Homo sapiens: one gene and its partner. Each later gene encodes a partner of the first gene's protein in a complex. Each region holds a gene or a part of one and is shown in the gene's direction. Other genes may lie near its edges.

Evidence for each region.
Region 2: the proteins of RAB3IL1 (region 1) and RAB8A are in contact, whole or in part, in a crystal structure (PDB 4LI0), measured with the Homo sapiens proteins. Residues at the interface, in NP_037533.2 of Homo sapiens: Arg104, Glu108, Leu111, Glu112, Thr115, Ala116, Phe119, Glu120, Ala122, His123, Arg127; in NP_005361.2 of Homo sapiens: Lys10 (codon at 6,928), Phe33 (codon at 6,997), Ser35 (codon at 7,003), Phe37 (codon at 7,009), Ile43, Asp44, Phe45, Lys46, Ile47, Gln60, Trp62, Thr72, Ile73, Thr75, Ala76, Tyr77, Arg79.

What each region holds. Positions count from the first base shown.
Region 1 is NC_000011.10:61,912,615-61,924,190, reverse strand, and holds the start of RAB3IL1 (guanine nucleotide exchange factor for Rab-3A), read left to right. Parts: upstream 1-6,624; 5' UTR 6,625-6,823; coding exon 6,824-6,834; intron 6,835-11,576. UniProt on the Homo sapiens protein: Guanine nucleotide exchange factor (GEF) which may activate RAB3A, a GTPase that regulates synaptic vesicle exocytosis. Promotes the exchange of GDP to GTP, converting inactive GDP-bound Rab proteins into their active GTP-bound form.
Region 2 is NC_000019.10:16,105,002-16,117,480, forward strand, and holds the start of RAB8A (ras-related protein Rab-8A), read left to right. Parts: upstream 1-6,887; 5' UTR 6,888-6,900; coding exon 6,901-7,024; intron 7,025-12,479. UniProt on the Homo sapiens protein: The small GTPases Rab are key regulators of intracellular membrane trafficking, from the formation of transport vesicles to their fusion with membranes.

The sequences.
Region 1 (11,576 bases):
GTACCACCTGGGACAAGTGCCTGCCCTCTCTGGACCCCAACTGCCCTCCCTAAAAAATGGAGATGGTGGTCGAAGGAGGTCTGTTGTGAATCTTAGTGTTCTCAAAGTGCTGTCCTGGGCTGAGCCCCTCCCTGAGCCCAGACTGTCCCCGGGGCCTGGCTTCACCAGGTTGGCCTGAGCAAAGCTGTGACCCCATTCGGCCGCCTCCACACGCTCTGTCCTGCCCTTCCCTGAGGGGCCTGGGCCTGGTCTTGGTCAGGCCTGGGGACAGAGCAGGGAGCCTCCAGGCCCAAGTTTGACCTCCTGAGTCGCTTCCCCTCTCCCTGGAGCCAGAACCAGCGTCCTCTTTCCCTCCTGCTTGAAATCTGAGCTCAGAGATCCAGGGAGGACTTTGGCTGCAAAACATTCCATCCGCGCTGTCCAAACACCCTGCACAGCTGGCGGAGGGAGGGGCAGCCAGAACTGGCTTTCAGGAACCCTGGGGCTGTTGTTTTCATGGAAATGGGGGAGCCCTCACTCTGAGGACCAGCACTGGCTGACCTGAGGAAGTTCACAGGGTCAAGTGGACCAAGGAAGGGCCCACCTGCACACATGTTTTTGGGGCTTACCCAGGGCCCCTCTGCTGAGCGCCCAGCCCTGCAGGGGAAAAATCCAGTTGCTTCAAAGTCTGCCCAGCCAGGTGTGCGTGGCTGCCTTGAGCCTGCCAGCTGGGAGGTGTCTGCACCACAGGCAGGCGGATGGTGGCCTTGTGAGCCTCCCCTCGTGACTGAGCTCTATGCAGAGGCAGGGGAAGGGCAGGCAGGAATGACGCTGAGATAGCAAGAAGGGGAGGCGACTTCAGGCAGCGGCTTTTACTGACAAGACGTCCCAGACCTGGCTGCTTCTTGCTGTGACTCACAAGTGACCCTGGATGAGTCTCTGAGCCTCAGTTTCCTCATCTGCAAGAAGAGACAATCGGGCCTTTTCTGGCTCTGCCTTTTTTCTAAGAAGTTACAACCAAAGACAAGATCCTCAAAGCTTCCCATCCAGTCCAAGCTGTGTCTAAATGTCCAGAAACATAACAGGTTTTTCCATAAAGTCTCCAGCAACTCTGACTCAGTTTCCCCTCTCCCGCCCCCGGCCAAGAGGCTGGTGGGGTCTTGGCAGGGAGGGACCAACTCCCACATATGATGCCACCAGCCAGGCCAAGCCCTTTCCCCTCTTGCCATGTTGGGGTGATGGGGAGACCCCCACCCTTCACATATCCTGTTTTCCATTAATTGTTTCCAGGTAAGCCCAGAGGTTGCCCAGCAGAGGAAGGTGGGGGCACAGGAGAATTGAGCAGGGGGATCAGAGAGGAGCAAAAACAGGAAGCGGGTGGGAGCAGGCCATGGAAAATTCATTGCCAGGAAAGGGAGGACAGCATCTGGTTTGCATTAGGCTGAGAGAGCTTCGCAGCCCAAAGCCCAAGTGGGAGATACTGTTATCCGCTGGGCGGGGCGGGGCAGGGTGGGGTGTGAGGAACTGGCAGCTTCTCCCCAGCAGGGACTCAGAGGCTAACCAGAAAGAAGAGGGAAGTACAGGCAGGAGGACGGGGCAGGAAACACTGAAGGAAGGAAACACTTCTTTCAGTCTACACTGTGGCAGACACTTCACAAATGTTATCTTCTTCTTCTTTTTTTTTTTTCCAAGACGGAGTTTGGCTCTTGTTGCCCAGGCTGGAGTGCAATGGTGGGATCTCAGCTCACCGCAACCTCTGCCTCCTGGGTTCAAGCGATTCTCCTGCCTCAGCCTCCCAAGTAGCTGGGATTACAGGCATGCGCCACCACCCCCGGCTAATTTTGTATTTTTAGTAGAGATGGGGTTTCTCCATGTTGGTCAGGCTGGTCTCAAACTCCCAACCTCAGAGATGATCCACTCGCCTCGGCCTCCTAAAGTGCTGGGATTACAGGCGTGAGCCAACGCCCCCAGCTGTCTTCTTTTTTTAAACTTTTTTTTTTTTTGAGACGGAGTCTCGCTTTGCCACCCAGGCTGGAATGCAGTGGCGTGATCTCGGCTCACTGCAAGCTCTGCCTCCCAGATTCACGCCATTCTCCTGCCTCAGCCTCCCGAGTAGCTGGGACTACAGGCGCCCGCCACCACGCCTGGCTAATTTTTTGTATTTTTAGTAGAGACGGGTTTTTTTTTAAATAATAGAGATGAGGTCTCGGTTTGTTGCCTAGGGTGGTCTCCTGGGCTCAAGCGATCCTCCCACCTCGGCCTCCCAAAGTGCTGGGATTACAGGCATGAGCCACCGCACCTGGCCACAAATGTTATCTGCTTTAATACTCACTATTTCACAGGGGAGAACTTCCCATTTTATATAGATGAGGAAACTGAGTCCCAGAGAGGTTAAGTGACTTGCCTAAGGCCACACAGTCAGCGAGTGGCAGAACTAGGATGAGAATTTGGGCCAAATGAAGACAGGGTGGCACATTCACACCATCCCACAGGTGGATGGAGTCTGTGTACCAGGCAAGGTGACACTGAGAAGGGTGACGAGGATGGCCCAGCCTCTGCCCAGAGGGCCACTCAGTTCTTGTGGGAGTGTCCAACAGTTCCAGGGGGTGTTTGTCATGACGCAGGGCTAACCATGTGTCTAAGGGCTCTGGTGCCTGCAGAGGAAAAAAGTAACCCACAGGGGAGGGCTTCCTAGAGGAGGGGGTATGAACAAAAGAGAAACTTACTAGCAGAGGCAGGATGCAGTGGAGATAGCAGTCAGGGGGGATAGTATGTGGAAAGAAGAGGAATGGGCACATCTGGGCAATGGCAACTGGCCTGGTGTGCTTTGGAGGGTGAGAATCCATTTCATAGTTGGAGAAACTGAGGCACGGAGAGGCTAACGTGCTCAAAGGCACACCGTCTGAAAGTGGGGTTGAATCCAGCCCGTCTGACCCCGGGCCTGTGTTCCCAGCTGCTACCGCTGAGTTGTTCCTGGGCGGTGGTGGTGAGAAGTTTTAAGGGTAGTGAGACCCCATCTCTCCAAAAAATAAAAAAAATTTAAAAATTAGCCAAGCATGGTGACACATGCCTGGAGTCCCAGCTGCTCAGGAGGCTGAGGTGGGAGGATGGCTTGAGCTGGGCAGTTTGAGGCTGCCCTCCAGCCTGGGTGACGGAGCGAGACCCTGCCTTGAAAAATTAAAAACAAACAAAAAACAAAACTGGGAATCTCAAATCTAAGAAAAAGAATTTAAAAATAAAGAAAAAAAATAAAAAATAACAGTTTTTTGTTTGTTTGTTTTGTTTTTTGAGACGGAGTTTTGCTCTTGTTGCCCAGGCTGGAGTGCAATGGCCCAGTCTCAGCTCACCGCAACCTCCGCCTCCCGGGTTCAAGCAATTCTCCTGCCTCAGGCTCCCGAGTAGCTGAGATTACAGGCATGCGCCACCATGCCCGGCTAATTTTGTATTTTTAGTAGAGACAGGGTTTCACCATGTTGGTCAGGCTGGTCTTGAACTGCTGACTTCAGGTCATCCGCCCGCCTCAGCCTCCCAAAGTGCTGGGATTACAGGCGTGAGCCTCCGCGCCCCACCAATAACAAAGTTTTAAGGGGATATTCAGGTTTGTGGTCACAGGCAGGAGGGCCTGTCTAGGGCTACACAGCCAGCTATGACAGCTATGACAGGATCAAGGCTGGACGGGCTCTTTCCAACACCCCAGCCTGCGTGGTGAGGGGACAAGCGGACCATCTGGGAGCCTGGCTGAAACACGGGGCCTCCCCTAGAGGTGTCTCACCTCCCCTGGCCCAGAGCCCAGGAAGGAGGGCCCAGTGTCTTCTGCTGCCTGAGGAGCCACAGGAGTTAATAATTACGGGGTTGAAGGAGATAGCGGCTGTCCTGGGAGGTGGTGCCTCCCTCCCAGGCTGCTGCTCTGGGGAGATAGCAAAGGTTAGTGTGAGGCTCAGCCTGGTGGGGGGAAGAAGGCTCCTGCTACCTCCCTTCCCGGCACCCTCCAGAGGGACCCTCAGTCTGGCCTTGCAAGCATGGACTCTTCTGAGGAGCACGCTGGGTGCCCCGCCCGAGGGACATGTCCCGTGTTCCTGGCCATGAGTGCAGGGACTGTCCGCTACGCCCCATCAGGCCTGTGCCCTGTACTTGAGGGGAACTTGAGAGAAGAGCCCTGGGGCACAGACAGGTGAGCTCAGGACCTGGGGCATGGAGGGGAGGGGGAGTCTTGGCAAGCTTCAGGGCAGCCAGTGTGAGAAGCTGGGCTCAGAGAGTCCTAGGCAATGGCTCTGATTGTCTTGTCCAATTTGGTGGCTGTACAGAGGTGGAGACTGAAGCTCAGAGAGGGCAAGACACTCATCCTGGGTCACACAGTGAGCTGAGGACACACCTGTAAGTCCAGAATCAGGGCCTGGGTTGTCCAGGCTGACTGTCTCCTGCTCCTCAGCTGCCTTCAGCCAAGGGTCTGTGGTCAAGGCTGCCAGGCTTGGGATGGAGCAGGCAGAGGGAGATAGAGGGAGGGAGGCTGAGGAGGGCAGTGGCTTGTAGGCAGAGGACACAACTTTTATTTATCCCTTCCCTGCCACTGGCCAGACACCTAGCATGTGCTCAGGAACCTCTTGCTGCCTGGCTGCACACAGCTGCAGCTGCCAGTGAGCCTCTAGTTTCTGGGTGGTCTTTTTGGAAAACGGGTGTAAGAGGACTCAGCCCCACTGCCCCTGGCTGGTGTGATATCAGGCAGGTTCCTTAACTTCTCCGAGCCCATCCTTTTCAACTGAGGAGCAAGTTCAGCTGAGCAGGAGGGTCCTCCCTACTGGGGGAGGCAGTGAGCCCTAGGAGTCCATGGTAGCAGGAAGCATGGATGACAGGCTATTTTTGGTTAGAAATTGAGTGTGGATGCTTCCAGAGTGGTGACCACAGACTTGTCCTTCAAGACCTCGCTCAAGGGCCTCCCCGGTCCACCAGACCTCCCAGGCTGAGGACTCTTCCTCCAGGGACATAGCCCTGAGCTGACGCCTCCTCCACCCTTTATCTCCCACTGGTCTGGGTTGCCATGACTTATCTCCTGCCGGGGCTTGTGAAGACTTGGAGGGCAAGGGCCCTGTGCTGGGTTCCTTTTGTGTCATTTTCTCCTCCTTCTCTAAATAGTGAACAAAATAAGGGCCAGGAAGACAACAGTTGCTCAAGACCAACTGATGAGGGATTCAAGCCAGCAAACACATGTGGACATCTGCTTTGGGTGGGCCAGACCCTGAGCTGGGCTGGGGGTGGGGTAGGGGAACATAGCTCCAAGAAAGAGAGAATCCCTGCCCTCTGGAAGCCGTGGCCATGGAAACAACTGCCCTGCTGAGTGATGGCTATGGGACGCCTGGGCTGAATGATTCTAGAAAGTTGGAAGGGATGCTATGGAGAACTGCCTAGGTTGTTCACTGCACAAAGTGCTGGCCAAGGGAGCAAGCAAGGCATAGAATCCAGCCTCGCCTCCACTCTCCAGATTCCATACCTTGCTGTGCGCTGTGCCCAGCGGGGAAAGAGCATTGTCTATTTGTGCCCTGGACGTGGAGGTCTTAGAGAATACGTCCCCCATCCTCCATCCTCCACCAACGTGGAGCCCCAGGAGGGCAGAACCTATGTCTGTACAGTTTCCTGCTGGGTCCCCAGCCCCTTGCATGCCCCATAGTCTATGCTCAGATGGAGTGGCTGAATGTATGAATGAGTAGAATGAATGAATAAAATGTATCCTCAAACGAAGATCTGACTAACTTGAGCCTGCGGCCTGAGTCAGTGGGCCTGGAGGGGTAGCACTGGGACCTCTGGTAGCACCTAGAAGGGGAAGTACCTCCCACCACGCTCCCAGTCCTCCCCTAGACAGGGAAGGTGGGAGCCATGGTACCTGGCGGGAGAGAAGACGGGTTCTGCTCTTACTGGTCCAGTCCCAGGCTGAAGTTGAGACGAATGATCAGGACTCAGAATGGGTGGGACAGAGGAACTGAGGGACAGGTAGACCAGTCGTCTGGGATTCAGGGAAGGTTTCACGGAGGATGTGGGACCAGACAGGTGTGTGTATGTGTGTGTGTCGGTGGGGGTGGGGTGGGGAATACTATCCAGAGGGCAGATGGTGAGTAAAGGCAGGGATGGGCAGAGCGTGTTAAGTGGCAGGAGGCTGAGTGAGGAGAGTTGGACCAGAAGTGGAAACTCCTTCGGGATAAAACTCAGAGAGTAGGACTCAGAAAACTTGTTTCGGGTTTGTCCCCTCCCCTTCCCAGCAGGCAGGATGTTGCACAGGGACAGGCACTAAGCAGACAGCCTAGGGAAGGAGGGCCGGGTGAGGAGGGGGGAGGGTGTCTGCTGGCCTTAAGTGACAATCTGTGTGAGAATCGAAGAGCTGAGAGCTCGGGAGCCATTGTAGGTTCTTGAGCAGGGGTGGCCCAAAGTGGGTGGTGCGGAGGGCGACTGGAGAGGAGGAGTCAGCTGGGGAGTCTGAGCGCGGCGCGGCCCGCGGGATGTTGGGGGCCGGGTTCCCTCCGAGCGCCGTGGTCTCCCTGTCCCGGCGCGGCGGGCCGGGTGGGGCCAGGCCTTGGGAGCGCGCGCCGGATCCCAGCGCCGGGCCGGCGGAGGGGCGGGGCCGGGCACGTGTCCTCGGGCCGCTCCCCCCTCCGCCACGTGACCCGCCCAGGGCAGGGTCGGGGCTGGGCTGGGGGCCGCGAGCCCAGGCGTCTGAGACCTACTGACCGGCCGCGGGCAGGGCTGACAGGCGGTGGGGCGGCTCGGCCCCTGGCGGAGTCGGCGGCGGGCGGGGACGCGGCGCTGGGAGGACGCGGCGGCGCTGGGAACGGACGCCTGGGCGCCCCGAGGCGCCGGGATGTGGAGCGGGTAGGTCCGCGCGCGCTCGCGGTCCCGCGCTGGGTCTGGGCCGCGGTCGCCTCCCGGGACGGGAGGATTTCGGGGGTCCCCGCCGGGTCTGCGCCGCCACCCGGAGGTGCTGTGCGCCCCCGCCCTGCCTGCAGGCGAGCCGACTTGCAGCCAGGAGACTCCGGGGGAGGGGTCGGGGGTGTCTCTCGGGGTGCAGGGTGCGAAGGGTGGGCAGCCGACCGTCCCGGGGTGACAGCGTCAACTCCTCTTAGCTCATCAGGAGCGCAAGTGAGAAGAGTTGGGGTGTGGGGAAGAGTGTGCACGACTCTGGGGCATGCACCTAGAGGAAGGACCCCCAGCCCACCCTCCCAACCTGTCCCTCAACCCCTTCGCTGGATGAACTCTTGGAAAGCAGTGTAGCTGGGAAAGAGGGGCTGGGTCTTTGCCAGGGTGGCTCCCAAGTTGAGGGCAGAACCTCCTTGTGGGGCTCTGGAAGTACGGAGGCTCTCAGAGGTGTGGAGTGGGAACCCCCCCCGCCCCGGCCCCGCAGCCTGGAGTGGGGTAGCAGAGACTCTGGGTCCTGGATTAGTGGCCCCAGTGGCTGTGTCTGTTCAGGCCACTGGTTCTCAGGGGCAGTTGCAGTTCCTGGCCCATCTGATGTGGGACCCCTGCCCTGTATGTGCAGAAAGGTTGTGGTGTTTTTGTGGAGTTGGGCAAACACTTCCTCTTCCCCGTGGCCGGGAAAGACCAGGTCGTGGAGGAAATGTGGCCAGAATGGGGGACAGGTTGTACTCCTGTGCCCCCTGGGCCAGATGAGTGGTCCCAGGAGAGGGCTACTGCCCAGCTACAGCTGGGGAGTGAGGGAAGCCCCCCGGAAAGGCAGGCAGGATCCACTTCACTCCATGGCACCTAGCAAAGGTTGAGCTGCGATGCTAGGGGAGGGATGGCCTTTCATCCCCAGCAGGGGGTGTGGAGAGAGTGGGCTCCTGTTAGGGGTGAGGTGTGGAGAGGCTTGGGACTTTTTTTTTTTTTGAGACGGAGTCTTGCTCTGTCACCCAGGCTGGAGTGCAGTGGCGAGATCTCAGCTCACTGCAACCTCCGCTGCCTGAGTACAAGCAATTCGCCTGACTCAGCCTCCTGAGTAGCTGCGACTACAGGCACACACCACCACACCCGGCTAATTTTTGTATTTTTAGTAGAGACGGGGTTTCACAATATTGATCAGGCTGGTCTCGAACTCCTGACCTCAGGTGATCCACCAGCCTCAGCCTCCCAAAGTGCTAGGATTACAGGCTTTTACCACCACGCCCTGCCCTAAGACTTGAGACTCTTTTTTTTTTTTTTTTGAGACAGAGTGTCACTCTGTCGCCCAGGCTGGAGTGCAGTGGCGCGGCTCAGTGCAAGCTCCACCTCCCAGGTTCACACCAGTCTCCTGCCTTAGCTTCCCGAGTAGCTGGGACTACAGGCGCCCGCCACCACGCCCAGCTAATTTTTTTGTGTTTTTAGTAGAGACAGGGTTTCACCATGTTAGCAAGGATGGTCTCGATCTCCTGACCTTGTGATCCGCCCGCCTCAGCCTCCCAAAGTGCTGGGATTACAGGTGTGAGCCACTGCACCCGGCCTGGGCTTGAGACTCTTAAAGGGAGAGAGTTGAAGGCCACTAGTGTATTTGTTGGCATTGTGCTTGGAGGAAGGAGGCTGGCTTAGGAGAAAGTGCTTGAGGTGGGTTTGTGGTACCTGGAGAGGTTAGGGCAGTCCTGCCCGGGGTGAATTGTGTTTGGGGAGCAGCCTCGTCTGCCGGAAGCCTGTGTCTTGTGCCGGCTGGGTGGACTCAGGCAACACAGCCCCTGAGTTAGTTGCTGTGTGACCTTGAGAGTGTGGACTTCCTTCTCTGGGCCTCTAGGTAAAATAAATGGTTTCTGGGGTGGGAGTGATCGCAGGTCAGAGAATGTCCTTCCCTGGAGGCACCCAGGCCAAGGCCAGACACAGCTGAGAGCCACCAGTAGATGGATGGTTGCTTCAAGGAGAGTCAGAGAGCCTTATATCCTGGGCAGGGACCCCTCCCCACCATCCAGCCCCCCTGCCATATTCCCAGCAACACTCTGGATGAGCCAGCTGCCAGGCTGACCCCCACAGAATCCTCAGTATGGCTCACTTCCTGCATGCACCCCTGCACCCCCAGGGGCCTAGCTGGGTGCTGAGCTCATATCATAATGGGTGCTTCATAAATGCAGATGGAAAGGATGAGGGGCAGTGAGAAGCTGGCGGAAGGGGTGAGGCAGAGCTTGGGGGTTACCTTGAGCTCTGTATTTTTATGGCCCCCCATTTGGGTGAGGAAACAGGGATTTAGAGTCAGGGGCCAAGCTGCTAGCCCCCACTGGGTGCCTGGTGTCCTAGGAGCTCACCCAGACCCCAGCAGCAGTTGGGAGGTGTCCTGTTCAGAGTCATACTTGCCAGGTTACTCTGACCAAGTCTGATGACAGCTCTGGCAGGTGTATATTTGGGACTGTTGATCCTAGAACAGGAGGAGCTGGGATTAGGAGTTGGTGACCCCAGCGGGGCCAGTGATGTTTCTGGGCTTCGTTTCCTCACCTGTGAAATGAACTGAGATCTTTCTCTTGGTGGCTGTGCTTTGTTAATGGCCAGGTCCTGGTCATGGCTCCAGCCCTGGGCTACTCTTCTGGGGTGGGCGGCAGTGGCTGGACTCTGCCACAGCCTGGGTGGGTCCTCTTCTTTGGGACTCCTGAGCATGGGCCCTGAACTCCAAACCCAGAGGCAGCTCCAGTCTGACTTTAGGTGCCCCTCCAAACTGGGTTGTCCCCCTTCCGATTCCCCACAGTTTCACACATTCATAGTTTTGGGTGCCAAGCCTGCTCCAAGGTGACGAGGTGAGGACAGCGTCTTGAGTACTTCTGTATCTAACATGGTGCTGGACACTTGGGACTTGGTCAGCAGAAGCCAGCGTTCAAGTTTCTGCATGACACTGTTCCAGCCCCCTGGTCTCAGTTTCCCCAGAGACGGGGCTCATCATACCTATGGCTAGAGAGGGCCAGGCATTGATGGATGGCCCAGGAATGAGATGAGACCACTCCAACCTCCCAGGGGTTGGGGAGCATGTTTTTGCGGCAGGCAGGGCTGTAGGGGCCATCAACTGGCTGTGTGATCCTGAGCAAGTCACTTCACTGCCCTGGGCCTTGGCTATTCTAAGGGCATGGATCTGTGGGCTCCTGCCTGTAAGGCCCAAGTCACAGGGGACTAGAGGCCGTGAGACAAGAGTCTGAAGTATGGCCCGAGGGCTCCAGGTCAGGCACACAGGCCTCTTCATTGGGAAGGGGTTGTATAACCCTCACTGTTGCTGCTCCCTGGAAGCCCTCCGTGATCTAACTGCCTACTCTACCCCTCAACAGGTGGAGATCTTTCCTGCTGTTCCTTAATCAGGACATGGGTGTTGGGGGCAGACATCCTCATTAGAATCCTGCTTGTCCTAGACCCTCCGAGCTCTGCACATGATTTATGCCCAATAGGTCTTTGGAAATGAGGTAGCGGGAGGGAGATGCAAATCAAAATAGGATATGGTAAGAAGGGGGCTGCCTGGTCGTGCAGATTGGATGGATCATGGCTGGTGGGGTGCCTGGCACATAATGGGTGCTCAGTATACACACTAGCTATTGGAGGTCTTCGGTGTCAATTCTTGGACTGAATGGGCAGGGTCGCCACAGGCGCATTTGAGGATGTACTGCGTGCCCAGCCCTGTAGAAGAGTAGTGAGATGCGCCCCCTCCTAGGCCCTGTGCTGGCTCCCATGGAGAGACAGGGCTGGATTCCCCCGCCAGGGGTGGGCTGGACTGGCCTGGTGGCCTGGGGCTATGGCCGGCGGAGGCGTGGCCTGACTCACCTGCTTTAGGTGTTCTGATCTGCTTCCCATCCCCAGCTGTTCCTGACCTTCTCCCCCACTCCTCCTCCATGGTCTCTACTAGGACATGCTGTTGTGCCCTTCTCCCTACTCTGGCTCCCCTTCCCCTGTGGCCCAGGCCCACCTTGGTTCCCACCTGTCCCTTTGTCCCCTCCTTGACTTGAGCTCATTGGTTCCTGGCCCAATTCAGTGAGACTCATGACGATCTCTTTCATCCCCGGGTCCCAGACACTCTTCGGCTCTGGTGTCCAACACTCTCGTCCTTTCTGGCTCTCAAGCCCTTGTCCTCCCTGACAGCCCCTCATCCAGGCTCAGGCTGCAGCTGCTCCCCGAAACCAGTGCCACTCGACAGCGTCACCCCATCCTGCCTATTCCCCCTCAGCTGCCTACGGGACGTGCCACTTCCCAGATGCCTCAGCCACCCACTTTCCTGTCCCTGAAAGACCCCCTCCCAGTTCCTCACTCCCAGCATGGGTACCGCTGTTCTCAGCTTTCACCTTTTCCTTAGTTTTGAATTATCTTAATTATTGTTATTGCTTTTTCCTGCCCCCCCATCCAGCCCCTGTTCCTCCCACAATTCCCCCTTCCCATCTTTGTTTCTGTGTGTCCCCTCTGCTGTCCCCTCTTAGCCCAGGTCCTGCCTGGCTGTACAGCATTCTTGGGTGGCACCTCCAGTACTTGGGCGCTGTCTCAGACTTCCTCAAACCCCATCTGCCTCTTGCCTCACTTCTCCAAAACCGCCATTCATCCCCTTTCCTCTGGGTGACAGGCCACGTGATACGCTATGCCTGTACTCTGCATTCAGTTCCCATCCTGCCACTTCCTTGCTGTGCATTCTGGCCAGGTCACCA
Region 2 (12,479 bases), on another chromosome or scaffold:
TTTAAAACATTAATGGAGTCTGCAGACAACTTTCTGTTATCGAAAAAATAACAAGCCGGGCGCTGTGGCTCACACTTGTAATCCCAGCACTTTGGGAAGCCAAGGTGGGCAGATCATCTGAGGTCACAGACAGGCAGATCACCTGAGGTCAGGAGTTGGAGACCACCCTGGCCGACATGGTGAAACCCTGTCTCTACTAAAAATACAAAAATTAGCCAGGCGTGGTGGCACACGTCTGTAATCCCAGCTACTTGGGAGGCTGAGACAGGAGAATTGCTTGAACCCAAGAGGCAGAGGTGGCAGTGAACCAAGATTGCGCCACTGCACTCCAGCTTGGGCAACAGATCAAGACTCTGTCTCAAAAATAAAATAACAGGCCGGGCACGGTGGCTCACGCTTGTAATCCCAGCCCTTTGGGAGGCCAAGGCGGGCGGATCATCTGAGGTTGGGAGTTCGAGACCAGCCTGACCAATATGGAGAAACCCCATCTCTACCAAAAATACAAAATTAGCCAGGTGTGGTGGCGCATGCCTGTGATCCCAGCTACTCGGGAGGCTGAGGCAGGAGAATCGCTTGAACCTGGGAGGCGGAGGTTGCCGTGAGCTGAGATCCTGCCACTGCACTCCAGCCTTGGCAACAAGAGCAAAACTCTGTCTCAAAAAAAACAGCAGGCAGAGACAGGGGAGGATAACGAGCCCAGCCAGGGGTTCAAGACCTGCTTGGGCAATATAGCGAGATCCCATTCTCCAAAAATAAATTAATAAAAAATAAATAACTGGCTGAGCACGGTGGCTGACATCTGTAATCCCAACATTTTGGGAGGCCGAGGTGGGCAGATCACTTGAATTCAGGAGTTTGAGACCAGCCTGGCCAACATGGTGAAACCCCGTCTCCACTAAAAATATAAAAATTAGCTGAGTGTGGTAGTGGGTGCCTATAATCAGCTACTCAGGAGGCTGAGGCAGGAGAATCATTTGAACCTGGGAGGTGGAAGCTGCAGTGAGCTGAGATCGCGCCACTGCAATCCAGCCTGAGTGACAGACTCTGTCTTTAAATAAATAAATAAAATAAATAACCGAAAATGTAGTTATAATAAAAGTATACAATTAAAGCATTTCCTTTAGGCCAATCCAACCTTTAATGGGCACTGGGCTGATTCAGATGGTTGGTGCAGAGAATGTGAATGAATAAAGTCACACCCTCCAATAAAGGCCCTGCCATGATTTGACCACAGTTCCTCCTTTGTGTGTCTGTTTCTCCCTCCTCCCTCCCCACTTGGGTTGTAATCTCATCTCGGGATGCTGTTTTAGTCATGCTTATGGCCTCAGCACTTCACACTTCACTGTGTTCAACGGACCTGTCCCAACTTTTGGGGAGTTCCCAATGCCATGAAGTATGGCTGGAACACAGCATGAGGTCAGAACCAGACTGTGAGGGATTTCAAACGCTAAGAGGAAGATTTTGGACTTTATCCTGCCCAGAGACCACAGATGGCTATTAAAGGAAGTGGTTTTTTTGTTTGTTTGTTTGTTTGTTTTGCTTTTTGAGACAGGATTCCACTCTTGTCACCCAGGCTGGAGGGCAGTGGCGTGATCATGGCTCACAGCAGCCTCGACCTCCTGGGCTCAAGCAATCCTCCCATCTCCACCTCCCGAGTAGCTGGGACGACAGATGTGTACCCAGCTAATTTTTGTATTTTTAATAGAGACAGGGTTTCGCCATGTTGCCCAGGCTGGTCTGAAATGCCAGACCTCAAGTAACCTGGTTGCCTCAGCCTCCCCAAGTGCTGGGATTACAGGCATGAGCCACCGTGCCCAGCCTAAAGTATTTTAGAATAAGCACACTGCAGGGTGGAATCTGGGTTAGAGAAAATGGTCAGGGAGACCAGTGGAGAAATGTAATGATTCCACTGTGGCAATGGAAATGGAAGAATGCAATTCAAGAGCTATTTGTTTTTTTATTTTTTATTTTTGAGACAGAGTCTTGCTCTGTCACCCAGGCTGGAGTGCAGTGGTGCAATCTTGGCTCATTGCAACCTCCGCCTCCCGGATTCAAGCCATTCTCCTGCATCAGCCTCCTGAGTAGCTGGAATTACAGATGCCCACCACACCCGGCTAATTTTTTTAATTTTTAGGAAAAACGGGGTTTTACCATGTTACCCAGGCTGGTCTCAAATTTCTAACTCAGGTGATCCACCCACCTCGGCCTCCCAAAGTGCTGGGATTACAGGCATGAGCCACCGCGCCCGGCCCTCAAGAGCTATTTAGAACCTCCTTAAAAACCAGAATGTGACGGATGAGAGATGAAAGGCAGATGTCAAAGACAGCTTAAGTTTCACTCCTAAGGAAAATCAGGACAAGCCAGTCTGGGTATTGGCTGATGGGTTCAGTTGTGAACATGCTGAGCTAGGAGTATCTGACAAATCCAAAGGGAGATGTCCTGAACGCAGGTGGATGTGAAGAGATGGCTGGGCTAAGGATAAAACACTGAGAATGGTCAGCATGGATTAGGAGCCCCCAGAAAGTGAGAACAGAGACAGAACAACGAGGACCACAAACACTAAGGGACAGGCAGAACCCACCCCTCCCCCACCTCAAAAAGACTTCAATGGGGTCTGAGGAAAAAACAAACAAACAAAGAAGGGGAGGCAGAGGCAGAGGTGGTAGGGAGAAGAAACCAGCAAATAAAATAGGGACAGGGCCGGGCACAGTGGCTTATGCCTGTGATCCCAGCACTTTGAGGGGATCACTTGATGTCAGGAGTTCAAGACCAGCCTGGCCAACATGGTGAAACCCTGTCTCTACTAAAAATAACAAAAATTAGCCGAGCGTGGTGGCACGTGCCTGTAATCCCAGATACTCGGGAGGCTGAGGCAGAAGAATCGCTTGAACCCGGCGGGCAGAGGTTGCAGTGAGCCGAGATCATGCCACTTTACTCCGGCCTGGGTGAAAGAGCGAGACTCCATCTCAAAAAAAAAAAAAAGGGGGATAGGGGCCAAGCGTGGTGGCTCACACCTGTAATCCCAGCACTTTGGGAGGCCGAAGTGGGCAGATCACCTGAGCTCAGGAGTTCGAGACCAGCCTGGCCAATGTGGTGAAATCCCATCTCTACTAAAAATACAAAAATTAGCCAGATGTGGTGGTGGGCCCCTGTAATCCCAGCTACTTAGGAGGCTGAGACAGGAGAATCACTGGAACCCGGGAGGCAGAGGTTGCAGTGAGCTGAGATCGTGCCACTGCACTCCGGCCTAGGCAACAAAGAGTGAAACTCCATCTCAAAAAAAAAAATAATAATGGTATAGGGCCAGGCATGGTGGCTCATACCTGTGATCCCAGCTTTTTGGGAGGTGGAGGCTGGAGGATCTCTTGAGCCCAGGAGTTTGAGACCAGCCTGGGCAACATAGGGAGACCCCATTTCTACAAAAAATAAAAAAATTAGCCTGCCATAGTAGCGTGCAGATGTAGTCCCAGCTACTTGGGAGGCTGAGGTGGGAGGATGGCTTGAGCCCAGGAATTCCAGACCAGCCTGGGTAACATAGCAAGACCCCATCTCTACAAAAAATAAAAATTAGCCATGCGTGGTGGTGCATGCCAGTAGTTCCAGCTACTCTGGAGGCTGAGGTGGGAGAATCACTGGAGCCTGGGAGGCGGAGGTTGCAGTGAGTGAAATCACACCATTGCTCTCCAGCCTGGGCCACAGAACAAGACCCTGTCTCAAAAATAAGTAAATAAATGAGGATAATACCAAGAAAAAAGAATATTCAGAGGTGATCAAGACTATCAAATACCACAGAGGCTGAGGCCTGTAGGTGGTCAATGCCTCTGGTTGAAGCTTTTTTAACCAGAGCTAGATTAGCAGAAGAATGAGCTGAAGTGGAAGGGAGGAGGAAAGGCTGGGCCCTCCTTCCACAGATCCTTAAGTAAGCCTCAAGGCCCCGGAGGCCCCAGAGTGACCTAGAACAGACTGGACCATCTCTAAGAAGCAGGGAGCCCTAGTGATCAAACTGCGGCCTGGGAAGCTTGGCACTCTGAGTTCAGATACCAAATTCCCACTTTTAAGCAGGAAGGGGGAAAAGTCACTTAACCTCCTCTGGCTTCAGTTTTCTCACCATTAAACAGGAAAAAAACAATAACATCGTTTTGCTGGGCTGGTACTGGGATTAAAATTTTAAGAGTCAGGGGCCGGGTGCAGGGGCTCACGCCTGTAATCCCAGTACTTTGGGAGGTGGAGGCAGGCGGATCACGAGGTCAGGAGTTCGAGACCAGCCTGGCCAACACAGTGAAACCCCATCTCTACTAAAAATACAAAAAAATACACCACACCAGGCGTGGTGGTGGGTGCCTGGAATCCAAGCTACTTGGGAGGCTGAGGCAGGAGAATCGCCTGAACCCGGGAGGCAGAGGTTGCAGTGAGCCAAGATCGCGCCATTGCACTCCAGCCCTGGTGACCGTGAGAGACTCCATCTCAGAAAAAAAAAAAAGTCAGGGTCTTGCTCCGTCGCCCAGGCTGGAGTGCAATGGTGCGATCACAGCTCACTGCTGCCTTGACCTCCTGGGCTCAAGGGATCCTCCCACCTTAGCCTCCTGAGTAGCTGGGACTACAAGCATACACCACCATACCTGGCTAATTTTTTAAAAAAATTTTTTGTTTTTTGAGATGGAGCCTTGCTCTGTCACCCAGGCTGGAATGCAGTGACACAATCTCGGCTCACTGCAACCTCCGCCTCCCAGATTCAAGCAATTCTGGTGCCTCAGCCGCCTGAGTAGCTGGGACTACAGGCGCACATGACCACACCTGCCTAGTTTCTGTATTTTTAGCAGAGATGGTGTTTTACCATGTTGGCCAGGCTGGTCTGGAACTCCTGACCTCAGGTGATCCACCTGCCTTGGCCTCCCAAAGTGCTGGGATTACAGGTGTGAACCACCTCGCCTGGCCAAAAAACTTTTTTTTTTTTGCAGAGATGGAGGTCTTGCTATGTTGCCCAGGCTGGTCTCCACCTCCTGGCCTCCAATGAACCTCCACCTCAGCCTCCCAAAGTGCTGGGATTACAAGCGTGCACCATGACGCCCAGCTAATTTTATTTGTTGTAGAGATGGGGATCTCCCTATCTTGTCCGGGCTGGTCTTGACCTCCTAAGCTCAAGCAATCCTCCTGCCTCCCAAAGTGCTGACTCCCAAAGTGCTGGGATTACAGGCCTGAGCCACCACACCCAGCTGCAAGCCCGATTTTCCAAATGTATCTCTCCTCTGTTTTTCTCTTTCTTTTTTTTTTTTTTTTTTTTTTTGAGACGTAGTCTCATTCTGTCGCCCAGACTGGAGTGCAGTGGCGCGATCTCGGTTCACTGCAGGCTCCGCCTCCCGGGTTCACACCATTCTCCTGCCTCAGCCTCCCGAGTAGCTGGGACTACAGGCGCCCGCCACTACTCCCGGGTAATTTTTTGTGTTTTTAGTAGAGACGGGGTTTCACCGCGTTAGCCAGGATGGTCTCGATCTCCTGACCTCCTGATCCGCCCGCCTCGGCCTCCCAAAGTGCGGGATTACAGGCCTGAGCCACCGCGCCCAGCCTTTTTTTCTTTTGATAGGGTCTTGCTCTGTCGCCCAGGCCGAATTGCAGTGGGGCGATCACGGCTTACTGCACCCTCAACCTCCTGGCTTCCCAAAGCACTGGGATCACAGACGGGAGCCAACGCCCCGGCCAGTTTTTTCAACGTTGAGAGCCCTGGCCCCTAGATAGGACCCAGCATCCTCACTGCTCTAACCCCTCCCCCCCCACCATCCCCGGGCTGGCCCGGACAACCCCTAAGGTGGCCGAGGGCGGGCCCTGAGGAGGCCGGCGCGCGCTTCCGGGCACAGCTTGTGGCGGTGAAGCCGCTCAGATGGCGGAGGCCTTGGGTATCTCTAAGCAGATCGCTAGGCCGCAGACCTCGGAGCTCGTCTTGGGTCACTTTTATTTATTTTTTTTGAGACGGAGTCTCTCTCTGTCGCCCACGCTGCAGTGCAATGGCGCGATCTCGGCTCACTGCAAGCTCCGCCTCCCAGATTCAAGCAATTCTCTGCCTCAGCCTCCCGAGTGGCTGGGATTACAGGCGCCCGCCACCACGCCCGGCTAATTTTTGTATTTTTAGTAGAAACGGGGTTTCACCATCTTGGCCAGGCTGGTCTTGAACTCCTGACCTCGTGATCCACGCGCCTCGGCTTCCCAAAGTGTGGGAATTAAAGGCGTGAACCACCGCGTCCGGCTTGGGTCACTTTTCGAGTATACAGCTCCTCCTCTCTCCTTCCTCCCTAGGCCCCCACTGCCCCGACTCGCAGGCCGCAGACAAGGCTGAGAGCGCTACCTTGCTTTCCCGCGCTCGCCTCGGTGCCTACTGCGCCTGCGCGAGCTGTGAGGGCGGGACCCAGAGACACCCGCCCCAACTACTGGCGTGCGCCCTCTGCTGTCGCCTAACGGAACTCCGGGCGCGCGTGCGCACGCACCCCAAGCCACGCCCCGCCAGGCTGCCGGCGCGCGAGCGGTTGGCGCCGCTCCCTGCCTTCCCTCTCCTACAGTGGGGCGGGGCCGGGCCGCCCGAGTCGGGGGTGGAAGGCGGGGGCCACATAATGCCACGCCCCCGCCTCGTCCCCATTTGAAGCCCCGCGACTCTTCACTGCTGGTCAATCAGAGCCCGTGCTCTCCCTAGTGCCGGCCAATGGGAGGTGCGCTCGGGCTGCTTCCGGCTCCGCGCTCCGCTCGCCCCCTCCCAAGGTCTCCCCGCGACTGGCGGGACGCAGGGGCGGGCGTCGGCCGCGGTGACGCGCAGCGGGCCTGGAGCCAATAAGGGGCGGGCTCGGTGCTGATGGACGGTGCTGGTGGCCAGTGGAGAGGCGCTGGCCGCACTTCCCGTCGGGGAGAGAGTGTAATATGGCGAAGACCTACGATTACCTGTTCAAGCTGCTGCTGATCGGGGACTCGGGGGTGGGGAAGACCTGTGTCCTGTTCCGCTTCTCCGAGGACGCCTTCAACTCCACTTTTATCTCCACCATAGGTAACGGGACCGGGGAATGGCTGGGGGCGCCGGAGGCCCGGGCTGGGCGCGCCCCTGAGGGGCTGGGGCTGAGGGATCTACAGGGCTGGACGGGCCGAGGGCGCTGAGAGGGTCGAGGGGGCCTAAAGGGAGAAGAGCAGTCGCCTGCACCGCCGTTCGGGGGTTCCTGGGCCGTGGTGGGGGAGACCAGGTGCCCATTTTGCAGATAGGGAGACTGAGGCTCCGACCCTCAGCCCGCTCGTTAGGGCGTGTTATGTCTTGGGCTGGGGTCTTCGCGCCCGTCCTCTCGATCTGTCCTAGCAGCAGCCCTCGAAGCGGTTCTTTTGAGGCTCTTGCCTTACAGAAGTGGAAACTGAGTCATGGGGAATTGGCCATGGGAAAAAGACAGTGGCATCTCACCTTAATGAGCATTTACTATGTGCCAAGTGCTTCACGTGCATTTTCACACTCTTCAGTTCTTGGTGTTAAGTGCTGTTATGAGCCCGTCTGACAAGATGAGGAATCTGAGGCTCAGGGAGGGCATGGAACTTGCCCAAGGCCACACAGTCTGCACGTGGTGAGAATGGGATTTGATGGAATTTGAACCTGGCTGTGTCTCAACCCAAAACTCGAGGCTTAGCTCTCCTAGAGAGATGCCACTGCACACTCCCAGCTGATGACAAGCTCAGCTAATGCACCTTGGAGCCGGGACTCTAACCCACACCATTCCTGCTCTTTTCTCTGGAGCGTTCAGAGGTTGAGCCCCTCTCCCTGACCATGCTTCCCCTCATAAGCGTATTTTCCTCTAGAAGGAATGATAAGAAGAGTCAGGACCTTTTCCCTGCCCACCTTTCATCCTGCTCCAGGAATGACAGCAATGGCAAGTGACAGCACTGCCTGCCCTGGGACCTGTCATCCCCAAGAAGATGCAAGATAAAAGCCTCAGCGAGAAACTAAATCAGCCACTGCCACAGACAGCCTTGACTTCCCTATCAAAGGGCCCAAGACTCCAGCTGTCACTTTAGAACAGCTTTTCCTGTAGGGCCAGCCCACATTGTGGTTGAACAGAATTGGCTTGGTGCATCTCAGTTGTGATGTCCACAGAAGTGGAGCTGACCTCTCTCAGTGCCACAAAAGCAGTCCTGGCCCACAATGAAAAGGTTTGACCCAGGAGTAACACCTATTTGAGTGGCTTGTGAGCTCTGTAGCCCTGCTAGGGATGGGGAAAGTGGGGGAACGGTCACTAAGTCCAGGAGTTTATTCCGACTCAAGAAAACCTAGGGAATGGCCTTTGCTTTACTGTGTCACTTTGACAGAATCGTGTTATCTCCCTGAACCCCAAGATAATGTGCTAATTCCATTCTTGCCCTCCTCCAGGAGCTATGCTTTATTTATTTTATTTTATTTTATTTTTTGAGACGGAGTCTAGCTCTTTTGCCCAGGCTGGAATCCAGCGGCAGGATCTCGGGTCACTACAACCTCTGCCTCCCGGGTTCAAGCAATTCTCCTGCCTCAGCCTCCCTAGTAGCTGGGATTATAGGCACCCGCCACCACGTCCAGCTAATTTTTGTATTTTTAGTAAATACAGGGTTTCACTGTGTTGGTCAGGCTGGTCTCGAACTCCTGACCTTGTGATCTGCCTGCCTTGGCATCCCAAAGTGCTGGGATTACAAGCATGAGCCACCGCACCCAGCGGAGCTGTGCTTTATAAAACAGTTATATGCCAGATGTAAAATAGAGAGAATTGACTGGAAATCATTACGTCTGGTTTCCAGTTGCTGTTTGCCCTTGAATGTGCACTACCCCTCTCTGAGCCCTGCTGTCTTTAGAGCAGGAGTGACACTGTCTGCCCAGCCTAGTGCCCTGGTGGTTGAGGATTAGAATTAGACAATAAGGGGTTGTCACCACAACCAGAGGCTATCTAGAGGAAGCAAATGAATGGCTCCTGCAGTGACAGCATCCAGCCTCTGAAGACAGATGTTTCTGAATTCTTCCCCCTCCCCCACTCCAAGGCTAAACTTTAGGGTAATTCTTGTGCTCCAACCAATCAAGAAGTGGCGTTAATTCAGCCTGGGCAACATGGCAAACCCCATCTCTACAAAAAATAAAATAAAATCAGCCGGGCACAGTGGCTCACCCATGTAGACCCAGCCACTTGGGAGGCCAAGGTGGGAGGATCGATTGAGCCCAGGAGGTCAAGGTGCAGTGAGCTGTGATGGTGTCACTGCACTCCAGCCTGGGCAACAGAGCGAGACCCTGTCTTAAAAAATAATAATAAAAATAAAAGAAAGAAAGAAATGATGTTAACTGTGAGCAGACTGGCTTGCATTCACTCAGATCCCAGTTTCCCAGCCTTCCCCACAAACCCCCCTCTTTTTTTTTTTTTTTTTTTGAGACAGTCTCTCTTTGTCACCCAGTCTGGAGTGCAGTGGCGCGATCTCGGCTCACTGCAACTTCCACCTCCCAGGTTCCAGCGATTCTCCTGTCTCAGCCTCCCAAGTAGCTGGGATTACAAGCACCTGCCACCATGCCCAGCTAATTTTTGTATTTTTTTTTTTTTTTTTTTAGTAGAGATGGGGTTTCACCATGTTGGCCAGGCTGGTCTCGAACTCCTGACCTCGTGACCGCCCACCTTGGCCTCCCAAAGTGCTGGGATTACAAGCATGAGCCACCGCGCCCAGCCCAACCCCCCTCTTTAGAGTTACTTTGAGCTTTAAAGAGGCTTTCTTCCATTTGCAGATGAGGATGTGACTTGGTGAAAGTTACCTAGCAAGGTGGAGGTGGCACCTGACCCTAAGATCCCTCCCTCCCACCCCTTCATTCCCCTCCTTCCATTTGTAGCCTTCTGTCTTCTAGGAAAGTCTAATTCACCATGACCTTGAAGGTCAGACCTCATAATTCTTAGGCCTCATAAAGTTTACACTTCCTAATTAAATTTGGCATGTTAATAAAACCCAGAGGAGTGTAGGGCGGAGTGCTGCTGTGGAGCTTGGCCAACCTAACAGTGCTCCTCGATTTTTTGTGTCCCTGTACACGTGTGACAGGAAATGGGGAATGTTTTAGGAAGCCCAGGCACACTGGGCTGTCTAGTCCTGAAGCAGTATCACCTTAATGCTTAAAGGTGATTCCATAAATTAGCCATACGTGGTGGCGCTTGCCTGTATTCCCAGCTACTCAGGAGGCTGAGGCAGGAGAATCGCTTGAATCCAGGAGGCAGAGGTTGCAGTGAGCCAAGATTGTGCCAGTGCACTCCAGCCTGGGCAACAGAGCAAAACTCTGTCTCCAAAAAAAAAAAGAAGCAATTCTATATTGGCTGAGTGTACCTCTGGGTTTTCTTTATAGACAAGGATTGAGTGGCTATTCATTTTCTGCCACTCAATCCTTAACATTTTGCCAAAAGTTACATTTCATCAAAGCCTATTCTCAGAAGCCCCATAGATCATTTGTGGTGTGAACTTGGCCCTGTAGCTCCCTGGAATGGGTTCTCACCAGCCTGGCTCGGCGCCACTGCCTCCTCAGGGGCCCATTGATTCCTCCAGTGAAAGGGTTGGCATTTGAGAAAGTGCTTTGTGAACCGCTCAACACCGCGTAGACCCTGTTGCGCTTTAATACTTTGATCCAGCCATATTTTGCCAGTGTCTTCTGTGGGCCAGGCAGCCATTTTGGCAAGAGGGCTGCAGAAAGGACACAGGTGAGTCAAGGTGCGTGCAGGACTGGGGTACCAGCTTCTAGCAAATGTGTATTCAACCCCTGTGTGTTCAGTCACTGGAGGTAATAGCAGTGGATGAGACTTGTCAGTTCCCTGCCCCAGGGAGCTTACGTTTGAGAGGGCGAAAGTCCAGTGCTGGGGCTGGATGGATGGAATTAGCATCCCCACCCTGGGTTCAGAGAGGCCCAGCCAGGCCTGGGCCTCAAGTCTTCCCCAGCAGGCACTTGAACAAACTCCTGGTGGCAAAGGCTGGGTCTGGCTGTTTCTCATCTACATGGGCCATTATGATCTGCAAGCATTATGCCCAGGTCCATGCAGCAGATACATACATGTATGTCAGTTATGTTAATAAATAGGTAAAGGGAGAACTGATGAGGATGGTCAGAAAGGTTCCCCTGAGGAGGGAACTTGAATGGGAACCTGAACAAAGGGATAGCCAGGTAGCTACAGAAGAAAGAACTTTCCAGGGCAGGGAAGAGCAAACATCAAAGCCCCGAGTCAGGAGCATGCTTGGAATGTTGAGGAAATCGCTGTGTGGATGGTGTGGCCAGAGAGAGCAGGTCATGAGCCAGAGTGCTGAGAGGTGACCAGGTTAGGCAGGACCTTGACACACATGAGCAGCTGTTTCCACTTTATTCGAGGGAAGTGGGGCAGGGAAGCCACTGAAAGAGGCTTTAAAAAAAAATAGCTTTATGAGATAGAATTCGCATACAGTTCACCCATTTGCAGTGTACAATTCAGTGGCTTTGGGTACATTCACAGAGTTCCACAACCATCACCACAGGCAATTTGGGAACATTTTTATTATGCCAAAAAGACACCAACCCAAGGCCAGGCACGCACGGTGGCACAGTGGCTCACGCCTGTAATCCCAGTACTTTGGGAGGCTGAGGTGGGCAGATCACGAGGTCAAGAGATCGAGAACAGCCTGGCCAACATGGTGAAACCCTGTCTCTACTAAAAATAGAAAAATTAGCTGGGCATGGTGGCGCGTGCCGGCAGTCCCAGCTACTTGGGAGGCTGTGGCAGGAGAATCACTTGAACCCGGGAGGCAGAGGTTGCAGTGAGCCAAGATTGCACCACTGCACTCCAGGCTAGCCAAGATCGCACCACTGCACTCCAGGCTAGCCAAGATCGCACCACTGCACTCCAGCCTGGTGACAGAGAAACTCCATCTCAAAAAAAAAAAAAAAAAGGATACCAACCCTTCCAGTTTCCCCATGTGCCCCCCCAGCCCCAGACAACTGCTAATCAGCTTTCTGTTTCTATGAATGAGCCTATGCTGGACATGTCTGTTAATGGAATCTCACACTAAGTGACCTTTAGTGTCTGGCTTCTCTCAGCATCCTGTCTTCAAGGTTCATCCACATTGTATAGCATGGATGAGTACTCCGTTCCTTTTTATGACTGGGTCATATTCTGTTGTATGGTTGGACCACATTTTGTTCATCCATTCATCTGTTGGTGGACATACTAGAAAGTTTGGAGCAGAGGGCCGGGTGCGGTGGCTGATGCCTATAATCCCAGCACTTTGGGAGGCTGAGGCAGGCAGATCATTTGAGGTCAGGAGTTTGAGACCAGCCTGGCCAACACGGTGAAACCCCATCTCTACTAAAAACTCAAAAATTGGCCGGGCATTGTGGCAGGCACCTGTGGTCCCAGCTACTCGGGAGGCTGAGGCAGGAGAATCACTTGAACCTGGGAGACAGAGGCTGCAGTGAGCCAAGATTGTGCCACTGCACTCCAGCCTGGGCGACAGAGCGAGAC